3 separate regions of the Homo sapiens genome follow, and regions 2 and 3 are each reported to be linked to region 1. The links are microRNA targets in miRTarBase. Many come from high-throughput screens and were not tested one by one. Region 1 holds a microRNA gene; each other region holds the end of a gene's coding sequence.

Evidence for each region. The annotated mature microRNA hsa-miR-1231 reads GUGUCUGGGCGGACAGCUGC and lies in region 1 at 961-980, shown strand. An mRNA with a match to its seed (bases 2 to 7 or 8) in the 3' UTR can be bound and repressed. Matches are read on the target gene's strand: a 7mer-m8 pairs with bases 2 to 8, a 7mer-A1 pairs with bases 2 to 7 and ends in A, and an 8mer does both.
Region 2: miRTarBase lists TMEM184A as a target of hsa-miR-1231. Seed matches in the 3' UTR shown: 7mer-m8 at 596-602.
Region 3: the mRNA of FOLR1 is a reported target of hsa-miR-1231. Seed matches in the 3' UTR shown: 7mer-m8 at 490-496.

The regions. Positions count from the first base shown.
Region 1 is chr1:201,807,655-201,810,900 of GRCh38, forward strand. MIR1231 (microRNA 1231) reads left to right here and starts at 957; the gene lies at 957-1,048. It overlaps NAV1 (neuron navigator 1), which reads left to right. Exons shown (of 34, transcript NM_001389617.1): 22 at 299-495; 23 at 764-956; 24 at 1,049-1,217; 25 at 1,510-1,607; 26 at 1,788-1,883; 27 at 2,292-2,451; 28 at 2,869-3,104. The region is part of intron 2 of IPO9-AS1 (IPO9 antisense RNA 1); the gene reads right to left.
Region 2 is chr7:1,544,408-1,547,653 of GRCh38, forward strand. It overlaps TMEM184A (transmembrane protein 184A), which reads right to left. Exons shown (of 9, transcript NM_001097620.2): 9 at 1-2,774. The coding sequence ends at 2,545. Among named protein-coding and RNA genes, the nearest start is that of TMEM184A, 10 kb to the right of the region's middle. RefSeq lists an enhancer at 13-162.
Region 3 is chr11:72,195,799-72,199,044 of GRCh38, forward strand. FOLR1 (folate receptor alpha) reads left to right here. Exons shown (of 4, transcript NM_016729.3): 4 at 99-501. The coding sequence ends at 379. It overlaps FOLR1-AS1 (FOLR1 antisense RNA 1), which reads right to left. Exons shown (of 3, transcript NR_199595.1): 2 at 2,715-2,938. Among named protein-coding and RNA genes, the nearest start is that of FOLR1, 5.3 kb to the left of the region's middle.

The DNA.
Region 1 (3,246 bases):
TCTTGGTCCTAATTTCCTTTCTTTCTTTCTTTCTTTTGAGATGGAGTCTCACTCTGTTGCCAGGCTGGAGTGCAGTGGCTCGATCTCAGCTCACTGCAACCTCTGCCTCCACGGTCCTAATTTCTAGGCAACTCTTCTGTCCGTATTCTATGAATCAAGTGAAGTGTTATAGAGGGTGGCTTAATTAAAGTAAATCCCCCGCCTCCAGCTCTCTCTGTCTCAGAAGTCTCAATCCAGTCCTCCCCCATCCCAGTAGTGGAGTCCTAATGTCCCTCTACCTGGATCTGCTTTTTTCTAGCTTCGAAGTTCCTTCAACAAAGCGTTCAGTATAAAAAAGGGGCCCAAGTCAGCTTCCTCATACTCGGATATAGAGGAGATTGCTACACCCGACTCTTCAGCCCCCTCATCCCCCAAACTACAGCATGGTTCTACAGAGACTGCTTCACCCTCCATCAAGTCCTCCACCTCGTCCTCCGTGGGCACTGATGTCACCGAGTAAGTGCTCTTTGGCTCCCTGCCACCCAGCCTGTTACCAGTGTAAGCTGTGGGCTAGAGTTGACAGGAGGCCATTAGACCTTAGACAAGCAGTACTTATTACTGACCTCTCCCTGGGCATATGAGACCAACAGATGGACCTTTCTTCTCATGCTGATTGAATATCAATGGGCAGGAGAAGCCAAGACCACCAACCATGCCTCTCAATATTCTCTAGTAACTCTAGTGCTTCTTCATGTAGCCTGGCTTGACTCTTGCTATCTTACAGGGGCCCTGCTCACCCAGCCCCCCACACTAGGCTGTTCCATGCAAATGAGGAGGAGGAGCCAGAGAAGAAGGAGGTATCGGAGCTGCGCTCTGAGCTATGGGAGAAGGAAATGAAGCTTACAGACATCCGCTTGGAGGCCCTCAACTCTGCCCACCAACTGGATCAGCTTCGGGAGACCATGCACAACATGCAGGTCAGTGTCTGGGCGGACAGCTGCAGGAAAGGGAAGACCAAGGCTTGCTGTCTGTCCAGTCTGCCACCCTACCCTGTCTGTTCTTGCCACAGTTGGAGGTGGACCTGCTGAAAGCAGAGAATGACCGACTGAAGGTAGCCCCAGGCCCCTCATCAGGCTCCACTCCAGGGCAGGTCCCTGGATCATCTGCATTATCTTCCCCACGCCGCTCCCTAGGCCTGGCACTCACCCATTCCTTCGGCCCCAGTCTTGCAGACACAGGTACCTGTGTGGGAGAAGAATCTATAAGGGTGAAGGGAAGAAAAGGGCTTATTTCACTGTTACACCATTCCACTTGCTTTGGTCAGGGCGGTAACAATGCCGAAGCCAAGCAGATGCCAGTGTCCTAAGACACTGAGTTGTAATGGTCCTTCAACCTTAACTACTTTTGAGTTTGGGACCTCCATTCCTTCTCTGTGGCAAACAGAGTTATTTTGGAAAGGATAATGATGGGAAAGTTTAGGAAAGGCTGCGGGTACTCCTAAAACCAGTTGGTTCTTTTCAATCCCCACAGACCTGTCACCCATGGATGGCATCAGTACTTGTGGTCCAAAGGAGGAAGTGACCCTCCGGGTGGTGGTGAGGATGCCCCCGCAGCACATCATCAAAGGGGTAAGGAACTTCAGGGAGAGCCACAGTGGGAATGAACAAATACTGTTACATTTATCCAAGAAAATCTGGACCCTGGGTACCTCCAAAACCAAAGAACTCAACTCCTAAGGCCTTTAGGACCCCGGTTCATGGAGTCATCTGCAGTGAAGCTCAAGAGCTTTTCCTTCCTTGGCCTTACAGGACTTGAAGCAGCAGGAATTCTTCCTGGGCTGTAGCAAGGTCAGTGGAAAAGTTGACTGGAAGATGCTGGATGAAGCTGTTTTCCAAGTGTTCAAGGTAAAGGGATACCTGTACTCAAAAAGGTTGTTCATCCTCTCGTGGAATATATATACTTTTTTAGAGACAGGGTCTCACTCTTGCCACCCAGGCTGGAGGGCAGTGGCGTGATCACAGCTCACTGCAGCCTTGAACTCTTGGGCTTAAGTAATTCTCCTGTCGCAGCCTCCTGAGTAGCTGGGATTACAAGCATGTGCCACCATGCATGGCTTCTCACAGGATATTAAACCGTCCAGGCACTGGGATCCTGGGGACCTTTGAGGCTTTATGGAGAAATGCTACCTAGGAAAAGCATATGCTCTGCACTTTCTCCATCTATTTCTGTTTCCTCTGATAGACATTCTTTGTTGTGGCTTTTACACCTGTGTTTGTATATTTTCTTCTTCTTCTGCCTGTCTTTTCTGTCAGGACTATATTTCTAAAATGGACCCAGCCTCTACCCTGGGACTAAGCACTGAGTCCATCCATGGCTACAGCATCAGCCACGTGAAACGAGTGTTGGATGCAGAGCCCCCCGAGATGCCTCCTTGCCGTCGAGGTGTCAATAACATATCAGTCTCCCTCAAAGGTCAGTCTTTGTCTCTTGGGGTGAGGTGGTGTGGCATGAAGGCAGGGACAGGATCATCAAATAATCCATCATGCATTCATTCACCAAGAACTCACTGAGAAGGTATAATATGAAGATGCTTAAGTAATGTGAGATATAAAAAGATGAGTAAGACCCAGTCCTAACTTTGGCTCCCAGGGACACTTTTGCTAAGCCTTGGCTTCTTGCTTCACTCCTCACCCCCAGCTCACAGCATGTCCCTAAAAAGAAGATCTAAGTTTTCAAAACTAGGGGTTAAGGGACTCTTATGGAACCATGGGGCAAGTGGCTCTGAGTTTCTTCAGGGGGCTCCTAGATAAAGAAAGAAAAGCCCTTTAGGATCCCTTGCTATCCTCAAGACCCTGGTCAATACTCATGCTTTCTGGGGTGGGGGTTCAGGTCTGAAGGAGAAATGCGTCGACAGCCTGGTGTTCGAGACGCTGATCCCCAAGCCGATGATGCAGCACTACATAAGCCTCCTGCTGAAGCACCGGCGCCTCGTCCTCTCGGGCCCCAGCGGCACGGGCAAGACCTACCTGACCAATCGCTTGGCCGAGTACCTGGTGGAGCGCTCTGGCCGTGAGGTCACAGAGGGCATCGTCAGCACCTTCAACATGCACCAGCAGTCTTGCAAGGTGGCTGCCCCCCGACACCCCTGCCAGCCTTTGTTCATGCCTCAGCCTTCCCTAAGACCCTTCCTCGGCCCCTTCCTGCCTCATTGTTCCCTTTTCCTCACCTCTGCCTTCATCTTTCTTCTCTTCTGTGTTCATTTCCTTC
Region 2 (3,246 bases), not on the chromosome of region 1:
AGAGAGCTTGGCGGGTGCGCTGGGCCCAGATACGCGGCTCCTGCCTGCCTCATGGCCTGCTCCTCTGTCGGGGCCTGTCACCGGGAAACCCCTTTTTTAGCAGCGATGACGACACTGGAACCACGCTAGTCTCCGTCCCTCCCGCTCACATGCGCCCACGCTCCCCCTCGAGGCAGGTTGAGCCCCGGCCTGGACCGCCCCACGCTGCCTTCCGTCCACGCAGAGCGGGCTCGGCCCTCAGGGCTTTCCTTCGAGTCGTGTTGGAAAGAAGCAGAAGCAGCCTCACCCGTGGGGCGGAGGCGTCTGAGGGTCAGGAGGCAGGGAGGAGAGAGGGCCTCTGTGGAGCCGGCTGCCTGGTGTCCAAGTCCCTGCTCTGTGACCTCAGGCAACTTGCTCCGTCTCTCTGGGCTCGGTCGCTGTCCCAGCTGGCTTGAGCGTTGAGCATGTCAGTTTCCTGGCACAGTCCTCGGCTGGTCTGAGGGGGCATTTGGCGGAAACTGACTTCTCCCCTGTCCTAAAGTGCAGGCCTGAGGTGTTGCTGACATAGGGGCTCAGCCCCTGACACCTCAGCCTCTGCCGCCCGGAGCCCAGGCGGTGTCTGGGTCTCCAGAAAGGGAGCCCTCGGCCACACACCCTCCAAACGCAGATTTGAGCAACTTGACCCCTATCGGGGTGGCCTTCCCCACGGCAAGGGCAGAGCAGGCCTAGAGCCCAGCCAGTGCCCCCAGCCTCCAGAAACTGCCCCTCGGCAGCAGGTCCCTGGGGACCTGCTGACAGAGTGAGACACGGGGGCCGCCTGGTGGGTCTATTCCTGTGGGGATCCAATAAGACAGGTGGGCGTCTTTGCAGCCGTGCAGGGAGGAGCTCAGCCTATCTTATCAGGCAGCCGGGCTGGGCCCTGCAGACCCACTGGCCTTGGATCCCCATGTCCTCAGCCCAGGAAGCAAGAGGCTGGGAGCTGGCCCTCTCTAGCCCGGACTCCACTGGTCTGTGCCCGCCCTGCTGAGTCCCTCGGAGACCCCAGGTCCCGCTGTTCCTGGTGACCGTGGCCATGGGTGGGGGGCAGCACGGGTGGGAGCCGCGGTCCCGGGGTGGTGCCCACTGGAGCTTCCTGTCTGCTCTCCACGCCCAGTGCCTGAGCCCCCCAGGCCTTGCCCACTTCTGCTGCCCCTGCCCCAGCCCCCACCCAACCTGTGCTGCGGGCCCCAGACACACAGAACTGACTGCCACCTGCAGGCCGGGTCACCGTACTGTCCCCTGACGGGCCCTGGGCCTGGGGGGCGCCCTGCAGTGACACCCCTCGCCCTGGGCCAGCCGTGTGTCCTCCCAGAAGCCCCCTTAGTCCCTGGGCGGCTACTGTTCTTGCGGCCGCGATTTCCGAGGCCACTTGCACGCCTCCAGCTTCCTGCGGGCAGGGCACGCGTCCGAGGCTCCTCAAACCCAGGGCCCCACCTGGCACGTGGAGGAAGAAGAGAAGGGCAGGAGGCAGGTGCCCAGGTGGGAGCCCCCTCTGTGCCCCCTGGGAGTGTCCCCCCCGCCCAGGTACTCAGGGCCCTGCCTTCGTGGCCTTGTCCGCTCGCCGCGGGTGGGGCTGGCACAAGGCCCGTTTTGGAGGAAGTGGAGGCTCCCAGGAGAAAGGCAGTGGCTGTGATCGCACAGCCCAGGCTCTGCCCTGCACTGCCCTGGACCACGAGGCTGCCCACCCCAGACAGGTGGGACCCCTTTCCCGCATGCAGACTCTGAGCAGCAGCCTCCTGTGACCCCCACCGCGTCCTGCTCCTCAGGCTCATGCCCTGCGGGAACAGAAGCCAAGACCCGGTAGAAAATCCAAGGTGTTTAAATATAAATAAGAGCGATTCCCACAGCCCCACGGTGCTGGCCAGCCTCACAGGTGCCCGCTGGTTCTGTGACCCATCCCAGGCACACGCTCCCCTGGCTGGGCGCCTGGCCAGGGCTCCCCTGTGGCTGGCGTGTGGAGACACGTGGGCCCTTCTCCACGTGCCCACGAGGGCCGTAGCAGGCTCCAAGGAGGCCCAGCCCCGGCCAGCCTGTGTGGACCCCGCCGGCCTGCGGCGCCCGGAGCTGCTGACTGTGTCAGAGCCCGGCTGCCCAGCGCCCCGGCGCCCCTCCCTCCAGCTGCCCAGCCTGGGATCCGTCCGCTGTCTGTCTCCTGAACCAGGGAGTCTGACCCACTCACAGCTCCCATGGGGTCCGTGCAGCCAAGGCCCCGCAGCCACACTCACTCTCCGCCCCACAGTGGCTCCTGGGGCTGATGGCTGGGTGATCCCAGGGGGTCCCCAGGCTCTTCCGATTGGCTCAGGTGCCCTCTCCTGCGGTGGCGGGCCCACCTGGGTGCCTGCCAGGGCCATCAGGTGCCCTGACCCCCTGGCTGGAGGGAGGATGGGAAGTGGGCTCCGAGGGCCTCACAGGTGGGCTCTCAGGAGAGGCCCCACCTTTGGCAGGAGTTGGTGGGTGGGGGGACCCTGTTCTTCCCCAGAGGCCTGGGCAGCCTGGGTCCCTACAGCACTGGCAGCCCAGGCCCCCCTACAGGTCCTCCGAGGGGATCAGCATCCGCTTCTCCAGGCTCCGGCTCTTCCTGCTCCCGCCGGAGCCGCCGCTGGGGTGGGTGCCGGGCCTGGGCGCCTCGTGCGTGGCCTGCTGCGTGTAGTGCTGGTAGGCGGGGGAGAAGTTGTGGATGGCGTCCTGCACGATGTCCTGGGGGCTCACTGTCTCCCTGATGCCGCTGGAGATGCTCTGCATGGGTGCCGGGGGGGCTGGGGGAGGGCAGTGTATGAGCCCCACCATCCCCCCTGCACTCCAGCTCCCCGGACAAGTCCCCTCCCAGGATGCCCAGGGCTGTAGCTCCTGCATGTCCAGGTCTGGCCTCGGCCAGCAGAGGGTGGCCCCAGACCCCTGGACCCCAGCCCAGCTTGCTCCACCCAGCACCGGGCCCGTCCCTGGCCAGACCCCTGACAAGGACCACGTCCCCTAGAGCTTCCGAGGGGCTCCAAGCAGCGGAGTACGCCTTTGGCTGGCCTCGGGTGGGCACCCTGGTCTCTCCACAGTGACTGATGAGAAGCCGGCAGGCCACAGGCTGTCTCCGCCCTAATAGGGGGTGTGCCTGGCAGGGGACACCCATCCCCCATCACCATTGGGGTCCGGGACCGCCTGGACCCCACACAGCCCAGGTGCCTGTCCGGAGCCGGATGCCCTTTGCCCGTCTCCCTGCCCAGCGAGCTGGCATTC
Region 3 (3,246 bases), not on the chromosome of region 1:
GGTGTGGAACAGGTATGTGACAATTTGGAGTTGTAGGGCTGGCAGACCTCAAGATAGTTCCGGGCCCAGTGGCTAAAGGTCTTCCCTCCTCTCTACAGGGTTTAACAAGTGCGCAGTGGGAGCTGCCTGCCAACCTTTCCATTTCTACTTCCCCACACCCACTGTTCTGTGCAATGAAATCTGGACTCACTCCTACAAGGTCAGCAACTACAGCCGAGGGAGTGGCCGCTGCATCCAGATGTGGTTCGACCCAGCCCAGGGCAACCCCAATGAGGAGGTGGCGAGGTTCTATGCTGCAGCCATGAGTGGGGCTGGGCCCTGGGCAGCCTGGCCTTTCCTGCTTAGCCTGGCCCTAATGCTGCTGTGGCTGCTCAGCTGACCTCCTTTTACCTTCTGATACCTGGAAATCCCTGCCCTGTTCAGCCCCACAGCTCCCAACTATTTGGTTCCTGCTCCATGGTCGGGCCTCTGACAGCCACTTTGAATAAACCAGACACCGCACATGTGTCTTGAGAATTATTTGGATATGAATGGGAACGTGACTGTTTTGTTTTCCAATTCCCATTGATTGAAACCAGTGAGACTGGGCCAATTCCTAGCTCTGACAGTTGCTATAAACTAGCCTGATACTTAACTATTTTTCTAACTTAGGAGACATTCGTAGCTCTCAATTTCATTTTTTACTATTGCTCCAATCTAGAGCCAAGCCCAGGAATTTTTCATTTGTTTGTTTTGAGACAGGGTCTCACCCAGGAATATTTTGTTTGTTTTGAGACAGGATCTCACTCTGTCACCAGGCTGGAGTGCAGTGGCATGACCTTGATTCACTGTAACATCTGCCTCCTGGGCTCAAGTGATCCTCCCACCTCAGCCTCTCAACTTGAGACTGCAACCATGTGCCACCACACCTGGCTAATTTTTTTTTTTTTTTTGAGATGGAGTTTCGCTCTTGTTGCCCAGGCTGGAGTGCAATGGCATGATCTTGGCCCACTGCAACCTCCTCCTCCCAAGTTCAAGTGATTCTCTTGCCTCAGCCTCCAGAGTAGCTGGGATTATAGGCATGCACCACCATGCCCGGCTGATTTTGTATTTTTAGTAGAGACAGGGTTTCTCCATGTTGGTCAGGCTGGTCTTGAACTCCCGACCTCAAGTGATCCGCCTGCCTTGGCCTCCCAAAGTGCTGGGATTACAGGCGTGAGCCACTGCGCCCAGCCCCACCTGGCTAATTGTTACATTTTTTTATAAAGAGGAGATCTTGGTATGTCGTCCAGGCTGATCTCAAACTCCTGGCCTGAAGCAAACCTTTCATCTCAGACTTCAAAAGTACTGGGATTACAACCGTGAGCCACCACACCCAGCGCAGTCTCAGCTCACTGCAACCTCTGCCTCCCACATTCAAGCAATTCTGCCTCAGCCTCCCGAGTACCTGGGACTATAGGTGTGGGCCACCATGCCTGGCTAATTTTTGTATTTTTATTAGAGATGGGGTTTCGCCATGTTGGCCAAGCTGGTCTGGAACTCCTAACCTCAGGTGAACCACCCACCTCAGCCTCCCAAAGTGCTGGGATTACAAGTGTGAGACACCATGCCCAGCCTAGCTCAGGATTTTATCATTTAAACTGAACATAAGCTTCCCAGGGTTGATTCCTGTGCTGTGCTCAGCTCTCCAAAAGAAGAGGTGGGAATGGCTGTACCCAGCATGTTTTGGATGGGTTGCTGGGAAGAGGGTAAGGGTGGCAGCAAGAGCCATATGGCACTAACAGCTAATACCCACAAAGCATTTTCTGCTAGGCACTATCCTAAACTGTTTATACCGATGACATGTAGATACTACTGTCTGCATTTTCCATATGTAGAAACAGACACATAAATTAAAGAACATTGCCTGGCCAGGCACAGTGGCTCACACCTATAATCCCAGCTCTTTGGGAGGCCAAGTCGGGCGGATCACCTGAGGTCAGGAGTTCGAGATTAGCCTAGCCAACATGGCAAAACCCTGTCTCTACTAAAAATACAAAACTTAGCCGGACGTGGTGGTGTGCACCTGTAATCCCAGCTACTCGGGAGGCTGAGGCAGGAGAATCTCTCGAACCCAGGAGGCAGAAGTTGCAGTGACCAGAGATCACACCATTGCACTCCTGCCTGGGCAACAGAGCGAAACTCCGCCTCAAAAAAAAAAAAAAAAAAAAAAGAAAGGACATGCTCTTTCCCATCATGGAGTGAATAAATATGTGTGTCTTGAAGGGATAATGGGTCCATGGCTGACCAGAGGAGCTGGGCCTAAGCTGCTCTGCCAGAGCTAGGATGGGAACCCAAACTTCGACTCCTAAGCAGGTTCCAAACCAATAACCTGAAGGGTTTTAAGGCAGCGTTCTCCATTAAATATAGTTTGTAACCTTTGTATTAAGCCAGGTTATATTACAGTAACATTCGTAATATTTCTGTGGCATCATACAACTCACCTTTTTGGGTTTTTTTTGTTTGTTTTCTTTCGTTTAGAGACAGAGTCTCTCTCTGTCACCCAGGCTGGAGTACTGGCATGATTATAGCTCACGGCAGCTTCAAATTCCTGGGCTCAAGTGATCTTCCTGCCTCAGCCTCCTGAGTAGTTGGGACTACAGCTGTGAGCCACAACATCCAGCTAATATATACACATATAAAATATGTATTATATATATACAATAGTAAAGACAGGGAGGTTCTCACTATCTTACCCAGGTTGGTCTTGAACTTGCACTGAAGTGATCCTCTCAAAATGCTGGGATTACAGATGTGAGCCACTGTGCCTGGCCACAAATCATGTTTATTTCTTGCTCAAGCTGCAATGTTTAATGTGGGTTATCAGAGGGATTCTGTTCATTTCTCTTTCCTGGACTACATTAGCAGCCAGGGGGTTCTGCTTCTCATTCCAGGCCCAGGCTGATGGAGGCTCCATCTTCTATGAAACAGGAAGAGGGAACTTAGCGAATTCCATAAGGCTCTTCAAATTTCCACCTGTCACTTATATCATTGGCCAAATCAAGTCATGAGCATGCCTAAATTCAAGAAGGCCAGGAAAACATGATCTTATCATGTACTTGGAAGGACAGGAGAATCACAAGGTTTGCAACAGACCTCGTTGTTTTCTGGTCAGTTTCTATTTCATGCACGGTCATAGTTACAAATTTAATTTTTTGGTTAGATCCTAGTAAGAAGGAGGATCAACTCTTTAAACCTATGCAAATAACTACATCAACCCAGGCCGGG